Linked DNA regions of Homo sapiens: region 1 is linked to region 2. A link means that fine-mapping ties the variant in region 2 to the expression of a gene that starts in the linked region. Tissue or cell type: esophagus mucosa. Region 2 holds a variant in brackets; the other region holds the start of a gene. All regions are shown on one strand. Distances are from middle to middle.

What was found. PIP is the estimated chance that this variant, and not a neighbour inherited with it, causes the effect.
Region 1: it holds the start of COMMD4, and the variant in region 2 is fine-mapped to the expression of COMMD4 in esophagus mucosa (GTEx, PIP 0.94).

Annotation. Positions count from the first base shown.
Region 1 is chr15:75,330,918-75,339,096 of GRCh38, forward strand. COMMD4 (COMM domain containing 4) reads left to right here and starts at 5,146. Exons shown (of 8, transcript NM_017828.5): 1 at 5,146-5,175; 2 at 7,145-7,216; 3 at 7,438-7,503; 4 at 7,729-7,768; 5 at 8,068-8,179. The coding sequence starts at 5,173. RefSeq lists enhancers at 4,980-5,029, 5,370-5,539.
Region 2 is chr15:75,359,838-75,368,213 of GRCh38, forward strand. It overlaps MAN2C1 (mannosidase alpha class 2C member 1), which reads right to left. Exons shown (of 26, transcript NM_006715.4): 2 at 8,236-8,361; 3 at 7,674-7,797; 4 at 6,685-6,755; 5 at 4,651-4,828; 6 at 4,162-4,351; 7 at 2,805-2,911; 8 at 2,506-2,616; 9 at 2,018-2,110; 10 at 1,767-1,883; 11 at 1,449-1,544; 12 at 1,209-1,354; 13 at 728-851; 14 at 253-374; 15 at 66-151. Among named protein-coding and RNA genes, the nearest start is that of MAN2C1, 4.6 kb to the right of the region's middle. The variant C/T (reference allele first, on the strand shown) is at 3,784.

The DNA.
Region 1 (8,179 bases), 29 kb before region 2:
CCCAGAAAACACACACAGAAAGGCTCTGCAGGCCCCCGTGGCCTGTCAGAGGTAAGAGCCTGCCCATCAAAATGCACAGTCCAGGTTCTTGCAGGGAGGTGAGGAGGGGAGGAAGAAAAGGTCTATCTCATTCTTTCAGCAGGAACCTAAACTTGGGAAAGCCAGACGCAGTACATTTCTTAATGATCCTGATACTTTTATAACTGGTTACAGCGGGGTCACATGCACAACTGTTTTCCAACATCTTTCAACGGGACACATAACATCCTGCAGCTTATTTTTTTATTTTGTAAGGCCAGGGGCAGTGGCTCATGCCTGTAATCTCAACACTTTTGGAGGCTGAGGCAGGAAGTCTGCTTGAGGCCAGGAGTTCAGGACCAGCCCAGGCAACATAGCAAGACCCAGGATACAACAGAGAAAGACCCTGGCTCAAAAAATATCTTTTCCAAGTGCAGTGCCATGATCACAGCTCACCATAGCCTCCAACTCCTGGGCTCAAGCGATACTCCCACTTCAGCAGCTGGGACTATCAGAGCGCAGCACCATATCTGGCTGATGTTTTAATTTTTAGTAGAGATGCGGTCTCACTATGTTGCCCAGGCTGGTCTTGAACGCCTGGCCTCAAGAGATATTCCCAATGCGACCTCACAATGCACTGGGGTTGCAGGCATGAGCCACCATGCAGCCCCTGCAAAATCTAACTGTCCTTCAGGTGCTCCTTTTGGACCTCCTAGCTAGACTGCCATTGGCAAATGCCAGTTGATTATCCACCCACATGTATGTTAATGGATTTCCCATGTTTTATTTGTCTAGACCAGGCTTTCTCCACAGCAGCACTGTTGATGTTTAGGGCTGGACAGTTCTCTGTTCTGGAGCTGTTTGCGCCTCGCAGGATGTTTAGCAGCATCCCCAGCCTCCGCCTGCCACATGCCAGCAGCACTCCTCAGTGTGACAGCCAAAGTGATTTCAGATACTGTCAAATATCCCCAGGGCGGCAAAATCACCTCCAGTTGAGAACTGCTGACCTAAAACCCTCTGGAACAATGTTAGATCATGGTAATGATAGCGCATACTGCTCCTGACCTTAATGGGAATACCTCTAGCATCAAAGTATAGTAGTACCTGTATACTACTGTCTGGGCTGTTATTAGTACACTGTATTAGTCCATTCTCACTCCGCTATGAAGAAATACCCAAGACTGAGTAGTTTATAAAGAAAAGATGTTTAAGTTGACTCACAGTTCTGCATGGCTGGGGAGGCCTCAGGAAACTTACAATTATGGCAGAAGATACCTCTTCCCAGGGCAGCAGGAGAGAAGGAGAGCGAATCAAAGGAGAAAGCCTGTTATAAAACCATCAGATCTCGTGATAACTCATTCACCATCACGAGAACAGCATGGGAGAAACCGCCCCCATGATTCAATTATCTCCACCTGGTCCCACCCTTGACACGTGGGGATTATTGCAATTCAAGGTGAGATCTGGATGGGGACACACAGCCAAACCAGATTATATCCTTTATATTAGCATACTGTATCGAAGTATAATTTTCTTTCTTTTTTTTTCTTTGAGATAGAGTCTCGGTCTGGCTCTGGCTGGAGTGCAGTGGCACGACCTCAGCTAACTGCAACCTCCATCTCCTAGGTTCAAGCAATTCTTGTGCCTCAGCTTCCTAAGTAGCTGGAACTACAGGTGTGTGCACCCCCTAGCTAATTTTGATTTTTTTTTTTAGTAGAGACGGAGTTTCACCATGTTGGCCAGGCTGGTGTCAAACTTCTGGCCTCACGTGATCCCGCCACTTTGGCCTTCCGAAGTGCTGAGATTACAGGCATGAGCCACCGCACCCAGCCTGAAGAATAATTTTTACAATGTTAAAAGCATGACTTTCATACAAATAATGAAGGAATATGTATAAGATATTTTCTTTAATTCACAAGGGAGTTAGCAACATGGTGAAGCAAGTTCAAGGAGCTTTTTGAGAGACAGTGTCTGTAATGCTCCAGGAAGGGCATTCTGAAATGTATTCTGAGATAGAGACAAAACTTGTTAATATCCTATAGGGAGGTCAGGCATGGTGGCTCACACCTGTAATCCCAGCACTTTGGGAGGTCAAGGCAGGCGGATGACCTGAGGTCAGGAGTTCAAGACCAGCCTGGCCAACATGTTGAAACCCTGTCTCTACTAAAAATACAAAATTAGCCAGGTGCAGTGGTGGTCACCTGTAGTCCCAGCTACTCAGGAGGCTGAGGCAAGAGAATCGCTTGAACCCTGGAGGCGGAGGTTGTAGTGAGCTGAGATTGTGCCACTGCACTCCAGCCTGGGCGGCAGAATTAAATTCCGTCTCAAAAAAAAAAGGGGGGCCGAGCGCAGTGGCTCACGCCTGTAATCCCAGCACTTTGGGAGGCCGAGGCGGGCGGATCACGAGGTCAGGAGATTGAGACCATCCTGGCCAACACGGTGAAACCCCGTCTCTACTAAAAATATAAAAAAATTAGCCCGGCGTGGTGGCGGGCGCCTGTGGTCCCAGCTGCTCGGGAGGCTAAGGCAGGAGAATGGCGTGAACCCAGGAGGTGGAGGTTGCAGTGAGCCAAGATGGCGCCACTGCACTCCAGCCTGGGTGACAGAGCGAGACTCCATTTCAAAAAAAAAAAAGAAAATCATATTGGGAAATAAAACTGCCATCTTTGGGTGTTATCTTTTCCACTGGACAGAAACCCTAAGTTAACATATATACATATTCTCAAGAATATTCATAACATATTCTGTAGTATATTTCCCTACACTAGTGGTTTTCAAAGCATGGTCTCAAATGTCACCTGGGAATATAGACACGCAATGCTCAGGCCCCACCTCAGTCCTATTGAGTTAGAAACTCTGGTGTGAGGCCCAGCAGCCGGTTTCACAAGCCCTGCAGGTGATGATGATGCACTCTAATGTGTGAGAACCACGGCTCTAAATAGTCAAATCATCTTTTTTTTTTTTTTTTTTTTGAGACGGAGTCTCACACTGTTGCCCAAGCTGACTGAAATGCAGCGGTGCAATCTCGGCTCACTGCAGCCTCCACCTCCCGCGTTCAAGCGATTCTCATGCCTCAGCCTCCTGACTGGCTGGGATTACAGGCACCCACTACCACACCCTGCTAATTTTTTTTGTTTTTTTTCAGTAGAGACAGGTTTTGCCATGTTAGCCAGGCCACCGCTCTCGAACTCCTGACCTCAGGTGATCTGCCTGCCTCGGCCTCCCAAAGTGCTAGGATTACAGGCATGAGCCACCGTGCCCAGCCTTTATTTATTTATTTATTTATTTATTTATTTATTTTTATTTTATTTTATTTTTCTGAGATGGTCTCCTTCTGTTGCTCAGGATGGATGGAGTACAGTGGTGCCATCATGGTTCACTGCAGCCTCCACCTCCCAGGCTCAAGAGATCCTCTGACCTCAGCCTCTTAGGTAGCTGGGACAACACGTGTGCACCAGGACAAGCGGGTAATTTTTTGTAGAGACTGGGGTCTCCCTATGTTGCACAAGCTGGTCTAGAACTCCTGGGCTCAAGCGATCCACCGGCCTTGGCCTACCAAAGTGCTATGATTAAAGGTCTTAACATTCTTAAAAAATTTTTTTGACATGGTTTAGGATAGTCTAGTAACTTAACGTACTGTTGTTTTCAACAGGCTAGTGGTTATGATTTGTAAAAGAACTCTTCAGAAATGAGCTCAATTTTACCATGAATTGGGGACACTTTACATTTCTATTTTATAGTGCAGTTTAATTGTCATGGGCTCTGTCTTTTAAAAACCTGAAAGCCTGCAACAATAAAACCAGCTGCACCTGTTGCATGGGATAGGCATGGAATTGAGGAGAGAGCTCAAACTACAGTCAGCCCTCTGTATCCTGAGGTTCTGGATCCTTGGATTTAACCAACTGTGCATCGAAAATATTTGGAAAAAGTAAAACAATAAAAAAACACAGGTCGGGTGCAGTGGCGGGCGCCTGTAGTCCCAGCTACTCGGGAGGCTGAGGCAGGAGAATGGCGTGAACCCGGGTGGCAGAGCTGGCAGCGAGTGGAGATCGCGCCACTGCACTCCAGCCTGGGCAACAGAGCAAGACTCCGTCTCAAAAAAAAAAATTAAAAAACTTTATAACAGCTATTTACAAAGCATTTACGTTGTATTAGGTATTATAGTAATCTAGAGATGATTTAAAGTATACGGAAGGATGTGCACAGGTTATTTGCAAATACTATGCCATATTATATCAGGGACTTGAGTATCTGTGAATTTTGGTATCTCTGGGGTCCTGGAACCAACATCCTGAGGTTACCAAAGGACGACTGTATTCAATTTTGTCTCTGGTTATTAGTCTATTCTCAAATGTATTTTTCTTGTTGTTTTGTCTTTTTGTTTTTGCCTCTTCAAGTCAATGTCGGAAACTTAGTTGTTCTAGACTACCCATTAGCTCAGAGCTACCAGTAATCAGACTACCACTGCAACCTAAGCAACCGATTTTTCTTCCCCATCAGACTGGCAAAAATTAAGATAAGCATCTATTGATGTTGAAGCTGTAGGGAGTTTTCCTGAGCAAGTAATTATGACAGCCCTTTTTGCTAGGCACCTAGATGATTCATCAAAATGAAATAAAATACCCATGCACTTGAAGAAGTTATCTGGTTTATTTCCTTACCTGGGTGCTGGTTATGTGAGGTGTACAGTTGATGAAAACTTATTAAGCTTTATAATAGGTACAATTTTCTGTATGTGTAGTAGACGTCAATAGTTTTTAAAATGTCTTTTGCCACAGCCCGCAGCTGTGAATAATGCTATTCGCTTAACAGTGGAAAACGTGTCAATGACCTGAAACACCCTGGCTCCCGGGATCCTACCCCCTTAAGTTAAACAAATGAAATAACTTCCACTGTCTTTCCTAATGTCTTAATTCGGTCCTCAGTTAAACTGGCGGTTGGCGCCAGTTTTTTCCAGGGAAGGATTCTGGGAGACGGAGGAGGAGACGCCAGCATTTCGCCCCCTGCACCTCCAGCGGGCTGCGGTCCGCTCCCGGCCTCACTCGAGCAGGCCCCGCCCTCCCAGAGGCAGTTAGTCCAAGTCACGTGATCGTCGACTCAGCTGACCCTGCGGGACCGGAAAAAGAAATTCCCGGGCCCTGGCTTCTTGGCGCGATGGTGAGGCACTAGGGGCGAAGCGAGGCTTGGGCTGCTGGAGCGGGAATGAGGGGGCGCCAAGTGGCTCCGGAAACTGGGGGAGGTTGTACTGGCCTCTCCGCAAACACAGTGTGTGCGGGCGTGAGGGCTGTGAGTCTGGTAGGGAAAAGTCCACCACTCTCCCGCTCCCGAGACGGGGGCGGGGGTACGGGGCGGGTAAGACAGAGCAGGCCGGCCGGCTTAGAGTCCCGGTGCTTCCCTGGCGGAAGGAAGGGCCCCTGCCTCCCGGGGCAGGAACTAGGGCTTGTCTGGAGCTGGGAGTCCTTTCAGGTCTTCCCCATCCCCAAGAGGACCTCCCAAGGATACCCCCTTCCCCAGCCCTGCCGTGGGGCTTGTACAAGAAGGTGCTTAGAATCAGGCTCACTCTTCCACACTGTTAGGAAGCCCCTCCGCTCTTTCCAGAGCCAGAAAGTAGTAGTTTTGGGGTTGAGACTTATCCATCCATCCATCCAATCCATCCATCCGTACGTTCTAAGCGCCTGGTCTATACCATGAAGTGTGCTAGGCACTGGGAGGACTTGAGCTGCCAAGGGAAGGGGAAATCGGAGGCTTGAATTGGAGTCATAGCTAAGGCTCCAGGGGCAGAGACCTAACTGCGCCTTGTGTGTAGTGCTAAGGGGGCTTCCTAAGGATGCCATCAAACTTAAAGGCGGATGGATGGCAGGAGCTGGCTGGCTGAAGTACAGTTTGTGTACCAGGGGTAGGGAGGCAAGGGTGGGAGACGTGTGTCTTCAGACAGGGAACAGCATGTGCAGAGACTTCAGGTTAGAGAGAGTATGGCTCCCCAGGAATGGATGCATTTCCCATAGCTGGGAGAGTATCATCTGCAGGTTAGGGAAAGATGAGGCTGGACAAGTAGAGAACAAATCTTCCTGGCTCTTGGATCACCACAATCAAGATAATGAACGTATCCACTGGCCTCCATAATTTCCTTGTGTGAGGGGCTATTTTAAGAAGTATAATCAAGAAAGGCTGTTCTGGCTGGGTGCGGTGGCTCATGCCTGTAATCCTAGCACTTTGGGAGAGTGAAGAGGGTGGATCACCTGAGGTCAGGAGTTCGAGACCAGCATGGCCATGGCACTCCAGCCTGGGCAACAGAGGGAGACTCTGTCTTATTTTTTTATTTTTTAAAAAAAGAAGGGCTGGTCTGATGTGTCACTTAAAGGATAGCAAGCCACTGGCCAGGCGCCGTGGCTCACGCCTGTAATCCCAGCACTTTGGGAGGCTGAGGGGGACGGATCACTTGAGGTCAGGAGTTCAAGACCAGCCTGGCTAACATAGTGAAACTCTGTCTCTACTAAAAATACAAAATTAGCCGAGTGTGGTGGCACATGCCTGTAATCCCAGCTACTTGGGAGGCTGAGGCAGGAGAATCACTTGAACCTGGGAAGCGGAGGTTGCAGTGAGCCGAGGTCGCGCCATTGCACTCCAGCCTGGGGAACAAGAGTGAAACTGTCTCAAAAAAAAAAAAAAAAGGATAGCAAGCCACACAGAGAGTGCAGCAGGCATGGAGGCGGGAGCAAGGCTGGTGTGCCCCAGCAGCAGCAGGGAAGCTGGAGTGGCTGGAGTTGTGTGGGTATGGGGAAGAGGGGAGAGAGTTCACTCGTCTCTGTGAGGCCCAGGACTTTGTTTTATCCCATGCTGTACCCCCAGCACTTAGAGTGGGAGCTAGCACAGAGAAGGTGCTTAATTGATGTTTGCTGAGCAGATGAATGCCTGGAGTAGACCTCAGAGCAGGGTTTGGTGGCAGGGTGGGTCAGGGAGAGAGTTTACTCAACAGCCTGGTGATAGGGGAGAACAAGAGGCCAGAGGGTATCCATCTATGTCGGGGACCAGGGGTCCCTGGTGGGCAGCAGTGTGGGAGACACACGGATCCTGGCCACACCTCAGGCCTCCCTCCAGCCTGATTACCTGCCTCCCTCCCTTGCAGAGGTTCCGGTTCTGTGGTGATCTGGACTGTCCCGACTGGGTCCTGGCAGAAATCAGCACGCTGGCCAAGATGGTTGAGTGCACAGGGTCTAGTCTGGGTGGAGGAGGGGTGTTGGGGGTGGGGATTGTGGGTGTAGAGGATGGTGAGGTTTCTCTGGGGCTAGGGCCTCAGTGCTCTCAGCCTGTGCTACCATGCTTTGTGACCTTGATCAGTGGCTGGCCTGCTCTGAGCCAGTCCCCAGGAAGGAGGGGTGAGGTTTGCCAGCCTGGCTGATGTAAGGACTTCCCTTCCAGTCCTCTGTGAAGTTGCGGCTGCTCTGCAGCCAGGTACTAAAGGAGCTGCTGGGACAGGGGATTGATGTGAGTACAAGATCCAGCACCCCATTGTCCCATGACCTTATGACCACCACTGCCCTGAAACTCTGCACTAGGCCCAGGGAGACGGGTGAGCCAGCCTCTCAACCTCTCTGGGCACCTCCCTTCCTTCTTTCCAGCCTGTCTGTTCCTTATCGCAGGATCCAGGCTGGGGGTGAGGGGCTGGTGAGCAGGGGCCTGGCACCCCCTGAAGGTCTCCTTTCCCCATAGTATGAGAAGATCCTGAAGCTCACGGCTGACGCCAAGTTTGGTGAGTATCCCGCTGAGTCTATAGGCCCCAGGCAACCCTGGGAACTTGGCCTGGTGCCTGGTACAGAGGGGCCCCCCACCCCTCCCAGCAGCATCCTTAACTTACCTTCCCTAGTGGAGGAGCATGAGGGAAAGAAAGACCGACAGTCCCACCTTCCTGTCCTCTGCCAGCTCCTGGTGGAGCAGTAGCAGTGCCTGTGGCTCCAGGAGGCCTGGGGGCTTTGAGCTAAAGTTAATAGGGCAACAGGGAGGTGGCTGGACCCACAGTGACACCCCCTGCCCCACCCACGGGTCCCTCAGAGTCAGGCGATGTGAAGGCCACAGTGGCAGTGCTGAGTTTCATCCTCTCCAGTGCGGCCAAGCACAGTGTCGATGGCGAATCCTTGTCCAGTGAACTGCAGCAGCTGGGGCT
Region 2 (8,376 bases):
ACAGGGGACACTCTGGGCTCAGCCCTGGGGTTGGAGAGAGCAGGCAGGACTATTGTGAGCCTAACCTTCATAATGGCACATGGCTTCCTCTGCCACCATCTGGATGCAGCTTCCAGTCACCACATCATGGAACTGGTTCAGAAGAAGGAGCCTGCAGGGGCCAAGGGCAGGGATGGGAAGGCTGGGAGGGGCAGGCACAGAGGTAACTGCAGTGAGCAGTCAGGTGGATGGCAGGGACAGAACTGGGCTGACCTCCAGAGGTGCTGCAGCTGGGCTGCTGGGTATAGGAACTGGGCACTGCGGGCCAGGGCCAGGCTACTGAGCAGCTCCACGTCGTGCAGGATCCGCTCACATTCCCGGTTCCCCTTCTTGATCTGAGCCCAGGATGGGAAGATTAGTCTGGAGCCTGCTTAGCTGTCCCAGGACACCTTCCAAAGCCCTCCCTTGCTCAGAATCCCTGAGGACTCACCAAGGGCCTCGTGGAGAAGGCCTCTGGCGGGTGACCTGCCTTAAATGCCTTCCCTCTTCTCCCCGCAGCCCAAACCCTTCTTTCTTCAGGGGTTTCTGCCTCCTTCAAGCTTTCTTGACCAACCCAGGTCTTGAACTTCTCTCCTCCAAACTTCTCTTCCCCTAGATCTGGCCTGGGCTCTGTCCCCTGCTGCCTTCTCTGACCCTCTGCAGATCAAGGGCACACCCTCCCTGCACAGCCCTGCAACCTCCCCCTGACCTGGGCATGGGTGGTGTATGTGCCATTGTGCAGCTCCAAGAAGAGCTCCCCAACCCACGTGCACAGCTGCTCTGAGTCACTCTCCAGTGCTGAGAAGAGCTGTCTTGGAGAAGATAGCTGCACCCTGAGGAGACCACAAGCCTAGGTCTCCCAGCCTTGGAGACCACATGGCTCACCCTTCTTCCACACCAAAGCAAAGGATCCAGCTCCTACAGAGAGGAGCCACTCCAGAAAGCTCCCCGTTCACAGATGGCCAGCCCTGGACGCCCTAGGAGAGCCTCTCTCTCTGATGGGCTGGAGCCCTTACCAGCTTCAGCTTCTCCCCCACCCACCCCCAGGGTGGAAGTTTGGAGGAACCCGTGGTCTAGGATTGGGACAGGACAAGGTCCAGAGGAGGGGTTGGGCCCAATGTCTGAGGGAAGGCAGGGCTCATGGCAAGGGCCCAGGGTGGGGCTAAAGGAGAGCCAAGGCCTGGCCTGACCTGGGCAGCCCATCCGTATTGCTCAGGCGCTTCAGGCGGTCCAGCATGGTCTGGGTGGGGCCACCACCCCCATCCCCAAAGCCAAAGAGGAAGGCACTGTGGTTGGCCCGCCCCTTGTCCCGGTTGTTGGCCACGGTCTTCAGCACCTAGACAGGTGAGGGCAGGCCAGCATGGATCAGCCTGGAACAAGCCAGCCCTCTCCAGCCTGCCCCTACCCCACCACCCTAGGTGACCCCTCACCTCCTCCACGCTGCCCTGCATCCCATAGGAGTCGCCAGGTGGGAAGTGGACCAGTACACGGGAGCCATCCAGGCCCTCCCAGAAAAATGTATGGTGCTACCAGCAGGGAAACAGAAGCAGGGCAGAGAGGCCAGAGTCAGGGCTGAGGCAGAGCCAGGCCTTCCAGACTTGGTCCTGCCCCTGCCTGCTATGTGACCCTGGCAGAGGCAGAGTGAGGGTTTGGTGGTCTGTCTAGGACCCCACAATAAGGGGGAGAGGCAAATGGGCCAGGCGGGACTGAGGCCCACTCTGACCCTGACCCCCCGGGGGCCTGCTTACTGGGAAGGAGTTCACCAAATTCCAGCTCAATTTCTGGGTGAGAAAGCGCCTGATGCCACAGCCGTGCATGATCTGGGGGAGCTGTGCTGAGTAGCCAAAGGTGTCCGGCAGCCAGAACTGTGGAGAAAGAGGATCCTGGAGTGCAGGAACCAGAGCTCCAGGCGGACTCACCCCAGCCTCAGCCCCTCAGCACTCCAAGTCGAGCGCCAGCCCCACTCGCCCACAGCCTGGTGTAGCAGCTCTCAGCCTACCTCAGAGCACATCTTCCCAAACTCCTGCAGAAAGAAGTTCTGGCCCTGCAAAAACTGCCTCACCATGGCCTCTCCACTGGGCAGGTTCCCATCCTGGCAGTGAAGGAAGTGGGAGGCAGCCCAGGTCAGCGCTGGACGGGGAGCAGGCAGGCGCTCAGGCCAACCCAATCCCTGCAGGAGAAGCCAGGGCTGCTCAAACATGGGAGTTACAGCCAGAACTCAGGAAGGGCCCCTGTCCTTCAGGCCTGACTGTCCATCTGCCTGAGGGGGTGCCCAGGACTAGGCCATGCAACTTGTCACAGCGCTGGAGGCTCTCCTCCCCCTTGAAGTCCCAGGCCTTGAGATCCCAGGGACTAATGAGCCAGCCCTGCCACACAGCGGGGATGAGTGGCCCGTGGAAACTCACCAGCAAAGCCGGGAGGGCGGGGCTACCTGAGGGAAGGCTGTTGTCATACAGTTCAAGGCTGAGGAGTGCCCAGTGCACTTACCATCTCCACCCAGGTGCCCCCCACAGGCACAAACTGCCCACGGCACGCAAACTCCTGGATGCGGGAGTACAGGCCAGGGTAGCGGCTCTTCACCCATTCCAGCTGCTGCGCCTGTGGGCAGGTTGAAGGGAGCTGGGACCAGAGTGACAAGGGCCCCACCCAGGACTGAGCATATGGGACTCAGTGTGTGGCTGAGGGTGAGGAGCAGCCCTGACCCCAGGCCTGGGAAGCCTTCAGGGCCTGTGGAGCTCCAGGGAGGGCCACGTGCTTCCCTCCTCCCTCACAGCTGTCCCTCTGACCTGGGAGCAGGCAAAGATGAACTCAGGGTTCCGCTCCATGAGCTGCAGGGCGGTCACCCAGCTCCGGGCACATTTCCTCACAGTCTCTTTGAAGGGCCAAAGCCAGGCTATACGGGGAGTGAGGTGGAGGACAGAGGGAGCAGCAAGGCTGACCAGGCCTGGGCTGGGACTCCAGAGGGTCACCTAGCCCCCCTCCCATCCCAGGCCCTTCACCCTGGAAAGCCCTGTGGTGTCCCTCCTAAGTGGTCACTTCACTTCACTCCAGCGAGGTGGGAGGAGGGGCTGGGGAAAGGAGGCGGCAGTGCTATGAGGCCAATTATACAGGTCAGGAAATGGAGGCTCCAGGCCCCAGAATAGCCTCAGTCCTCTTGGGGAATTAGACATCCCCTAGAGGATCCTACGAGAAGTAGCAGGGACTACCCTGCCCCTGCACAAACTTGATGTATACCTGGGAACAGAGGCATGGCTCCCAGGATGGAGCCAGCTGTCCTACCAGAGGTGCTACAGCCTCTCCTGACTCCCAGGCTGCAGTTCCTCCCTTACCAGCCCAGAACCTCTCACACCTTACCCTACATCTTGGCACAGCAGAGAAAGCCCTTGTTCTGTGATCCCAAAACTTCGGCTGCATCAGAATCAATACCTTCAGGAGCTTGTTAAAAATGTGGATTTCCCGTAAAACTCAGACACTGCAAACTTGTCCAGGAAGCCTCTCTGGAATCCCCCAACCCAGCTGGAGTAAGTACCTCTCCTGTGCTCTCCAGTGCCTCAGACTCCCCACCATTGTGACACCAACTCTGCCTGCTGAATCTGTCTCTGTAATCCTACCCTCAATATCTAGCATGGGCCCCATGAGGCATCAGATTTTGTTGAAAGAATAAATGAGGCTGGGCACGGTGGGTCATGCCTGTAATCCCAGCACTTTGGGAGGCCAAGGCAGGCGGATCACCTGAGGTCAGGAGTTTGAGACCAGCCTGGCCAA[C/T]GTGGTGAAACCCCGTCTCTACTAAAAATACAAAAATTAACCAGGCATTGTGGTGGGTGCCTGTAATCCCAGCTACTAAGGAGGCTGAGGCAAGAGAATCGCCTGAACCCGGGAGGCAGAGGTTGCAGTGAGCCGAGATCACACCATTGCACTCCACCCTGGGTGACAAGAGTGAGACTCCGTCTCAAAAAAAAAAAAAGTGAATCCAAAGCAAGCAGAGCCCACAGTCCAGCCCCCCGGCCCCGTTTTACAGACGGGGAAAACGCAGGTCCAAGAGGAGCAAGAACTTGCTGAGCATCACACAGTGCTTCTAGGGCACATCCAGGTCTTCAAGGGCACTCCTGCTTCCCCAGCCAGCCCAACCAGCTGCTGTCCTACCTGTATCAATGTGGCAGTGCCCTGTGGCATGAATGGTGTGTTGGCTTTCACCCCCATGTTGGCCAAAGAACCTGGAGGCCAGGGCCTGGGCCACTGGGAAGGTCTCGGGCTGGGCAGGGTCACACACGTTCACCATCTGATTGGCTGTGTACAGGGCCTGGAAGCTGCGCTGGTTGTCCTTCCCGAGGCCCTGCAGCAGGGTTCTGCCCCTTAATCCCTTTTTCAAGCACAGCTTCCAGACCTAGGCTCCACTGATCTCAGGGCTCTCAGCAGAGCTCCCCTGACCCCCAACCCTTTTTCCCTGCTGGTCCCCCTGCTCAGCACCGTCTCCCTCCTCCCCTTCACATAGGAAAATTCTCTCAACCCTCAAGCAGGTGGAAACCCTCGTCCTACTCTGGATTCCCAGAGTCCCATTTATCTGACCCAAAGAACAACCTTCTTGGAGCAGGGCTCTAGAGGGTAGCAGGGGGTACAGGGGGTGTCAAGTACCTTGGCTATGCCCAGCAGCAGCTCCAGATCCACCAGGAGCATGTGGACATCCCGGTGGAACACAGCTAGCTCAGCCCGGCTCAGCTGGAACATCTTCTCAGGGTCAGGGGCTGCAATCATGCTTCCCTTCCCGGCCCCCAGGAGCCCATTGCAGGCTACTTCCACATAGAGAGTGAGGCTACAAAGATGGGGAGACAGCCTCAGGCTAAGGGACTGGCACAGTACTCCGGGGACTTGGGGAAGGGGCACCCAGGAGGCATCCAGCTGAGCCCAACCTGTCTGCTTCCAGGATCCACTACCCAGAGGATCCCACAGTGTGACAAGAGTGCATGTGGGAGGGTTGTGGTACAAACACCAGATGGATCCCATGTCTTGCTGTCAGAGAGAATAAGTAGCAAAGTTTGGAACCATGTAAAGTACGCTGCTGTTTAGTCTTATATTTCCAAAGTTGTCTTTGCAAAGCACTGCCTTGGTCTTGGAACCCTCTTTGCATATTAAAATCATGTTCGGATCTCCCAGGCTCAAACTTTTAGACCCAAGATCTAAAACCAACACGGCCAACATGGGCGGGCCATTCATTGGAGAACAGGCTGGGCTGTGGTGATGCCATACTTAGGCTTCAGAGAGCAAACACGACTTCCTTAGGGAGGCCTTCCTGACTCCACTTCGCTGCTAAGTCTAGAGCAAATTCCTCAGTGGAGTACCCAGGATTTCCTTCCAGAGCCCTCAGTTTTGTAATTATATGAGTGAATCTGTCTCCCTTTGTTGGCAAGGGCTATTTTATTCACCACCATACTCCCAGTGTCTGAAAGCATCTGAAACAGTGTCAATCTATATAAAATACATTCATAATGTCTAAGAAGTGTTTTTAATGGTGTCATAAAATGTCCATGTTATAACATGGAATGTAAGAAGTCAGGATACAATCTTAACTAGTAAAAACTATACCGGGATGAGCCGGGCACGGTGGCTCATTCCTGTAATCCCAGCACTTTGGGAGACTCAGGCAAGTGGATAGCCTGAGGTCAGCAGTTTGAGACCAGCCTGGCCAACAGAGTCAAACCCCGTCTCTACTAAAAATACAAAAAATTAGCTGGGCATGGTGGTGGGCACCTGTAATCTCAGCTAGTAGGGAGGCTGAGGCAGGAGAATTGCTTGAACCTGGGAGGCGGCGGTCGCAGTGAGCCGAGATCGTGCCATTGCACTCCAGCCTGGGTAACAAAAGCGAAACTCCGTCTCAAAAAAATCCAAAAAAACCCCCCCGAAAAAACAAAAAAAACTATGCCGGAAAGATACACCAAGAACATGAATACTGGGCCAGGTGCGGTGGCTCACGCCTGTAATTCCAGCATTTTGGGAAGCTGAGAGGGGCGGATAACCTGAGGTCAAGAATTTGAGAGTAGCCTGGCCAACACGGTGAAACCCTTTCTCTACCAAAAATAAAAAAAAAATAGCTGGACGTGGTGGCACACACCTGTAATCCCTGCTACTCGGGAAGCTGAGGCATGAGAATCGCTTGAACCTGGGAGGCAGAAGGTACAGTGAGCTGCGATCGTGCTACTGTACTCCAGCATCGGCGACAGAGGGAGACTTCGTCTCAAAAAAAAGAACATGAATGCTGAGATGTTAATAATGTTCATCTCTATTCTAGGGAGTGGAATAACGGTAGTTATTTACTTCTTTGTGCTTTCCTGTATTTACCACAGGCAAACATTGCTATTATTTTTGAGACAAGGTCTCACTCTGTTGCCCAGGCTGCAGTGCAGCGGTGTGATCATGGCTCACTGCAGCCTCATCCTCCTGGGCTCAGGTGATCCTCCCACTCAGCCTCCCAGGGTAGTGTGGGTCACTGCACCCAGCCCATTATTTTTATGGTTAGGAAAAAATCATGCTTTTAAAAGCAAACAATGAGATGTGAGGATGATTGTGCTAGAGCAGAGGCGGGCTTATGAGATCACTCTGGGCCTCAGCTCCTCCTTGCTCACTGGTACTCCCTCCCTGACAGCACTGGTCAACCAGGGCACAGGGACTCACCTTCGGGGGTCTCTTTCCCCCAGCCTGTCAGTCAGGACATAGCTGGTCTTCTCACCCTCTTTGGTTAAACCCTAGTAGGGAGGGGAGTGAGAGAGACAAGGCTTGAGGCTTTTGGACAGTTCAGGTAAAGTGTAAGCCATGGGGAGTCAGGCCCCTCCATCTGGTTCCCAGCTCTGGGTCCTCTCTCCCAAGCAGGGCCAAGATTGGCAAATCAGGGACCCTTGGCAGTAGATGCCCCAACTCCCATGGCAGCCAGCACCATGACCGTCAAATAGCCCCTGTTTACCAGTGGCAAACCCATGGTCTTATGGGAAGGGCCCTGGGAAGGGGTTAGGCAGCCTGAGTGTGGATTCTGGTGGCCTCTGCACCCCTAAATAAATACCGGGAAAGAAACTCCGTGAAGTCAGGGGCAGGTTTGCCTCATTCCCTGCTACACCCTAGTGCTTAAGGGTATGGCCCAGAATGGACACCAGGAGATATTTGCTGAGCCAGTGAAGGGAGGAAGGGATGGTCTCTGCCTTCTTGTAGCCAGGAAGAACAGTCTTAACCCCAGATTGAGAGTCAGTCCAATTTGAAATAGAAGCTGTGTGAACCTGAGTGAGTCAACTACACATCTGTTTCTTAATTTGTAAATGGGTATAAAGACCTACTAGATAGGAGTATAAGGACTAAACCTGATAAGGGTGGAGCATGAATAAGACACTTAACAGTGGTTATAGCTGGGGAATGGGATGGGTGATAAGGAGAGATCCATTACTTTATCTAGAACTGTTTGAAATGTTTTCCTATAAGTTTGTATTATACACAATAAAAACTAAGGACCAATTGCACAGATGCCCAAGTGGCAACTTCCCTAGTCCTGAAATCCTGATACCACCCTGTGGGCAGAGCAACTCAGCTGTGGCTTCTCCAGAGTCCACAGAAGAAGGGCTGTAGTCATTTCAGGGCTGAAATGTGGCCATACCTGGCCCTAGGACAGGGTTCCTCACCTGGACAGGTTCTCCATCACGCCACACCAGACCTTCTCCATCACTTTCCCAGCAAAGGTGAACTTCCTGGCCCACCCATGCCTCTGGGATGGTCAGCTCCACCCGGAACCAGCAGGTCCACCATCTGCAAGAGAGCTGTTGTGATAGGCCTAGAGGTAGAAGTCCTATCCTGATATCCTTCCTTGGATAAAGTGTCGGCAGGGGCTTGAAACTCTCCAAGCATCTGCAGTGTCACAAGGTACTCAGCTTTGAGTCACAAGAAAGGAGCAACAAGGTGAGAAGCAAGATGAGGGAAACAGGCAGAGGCGTCAAAGGTTCGTGATCCCTAGGGTGCCCTTCCTAAGGGATGTCCAGAGGCGGCCACGTGGGAATGAAAACCATCCCCTGAAGACCCAGGGACCAGAGAGCTGTTCCCAGCAGAGGGTGCTGCTCCCAGCAGAGGGTGCTGCTCGATCCCACGTAGTTGTCTACGGCAGAGGGCAGACAACGAAGGTGTGGCTGGGAGCTGGGTTGGGACTTCCCCTAGGCCTGTGGCCCCGCCCACCCGCTGGGCGTTACCTACGTGGGTCCGAAGCTGTCGCCGACCTGCGCGGGGCGGAAGTCCCGCTGGACTGCCTCCTGGTAGGGAAGTCTCTCCGGCGTCAGGAAGCTGGAGAGCACAGCCACAGGGCAGCTGGCCCCAAAAAGCCTGCGTGGGACGGGC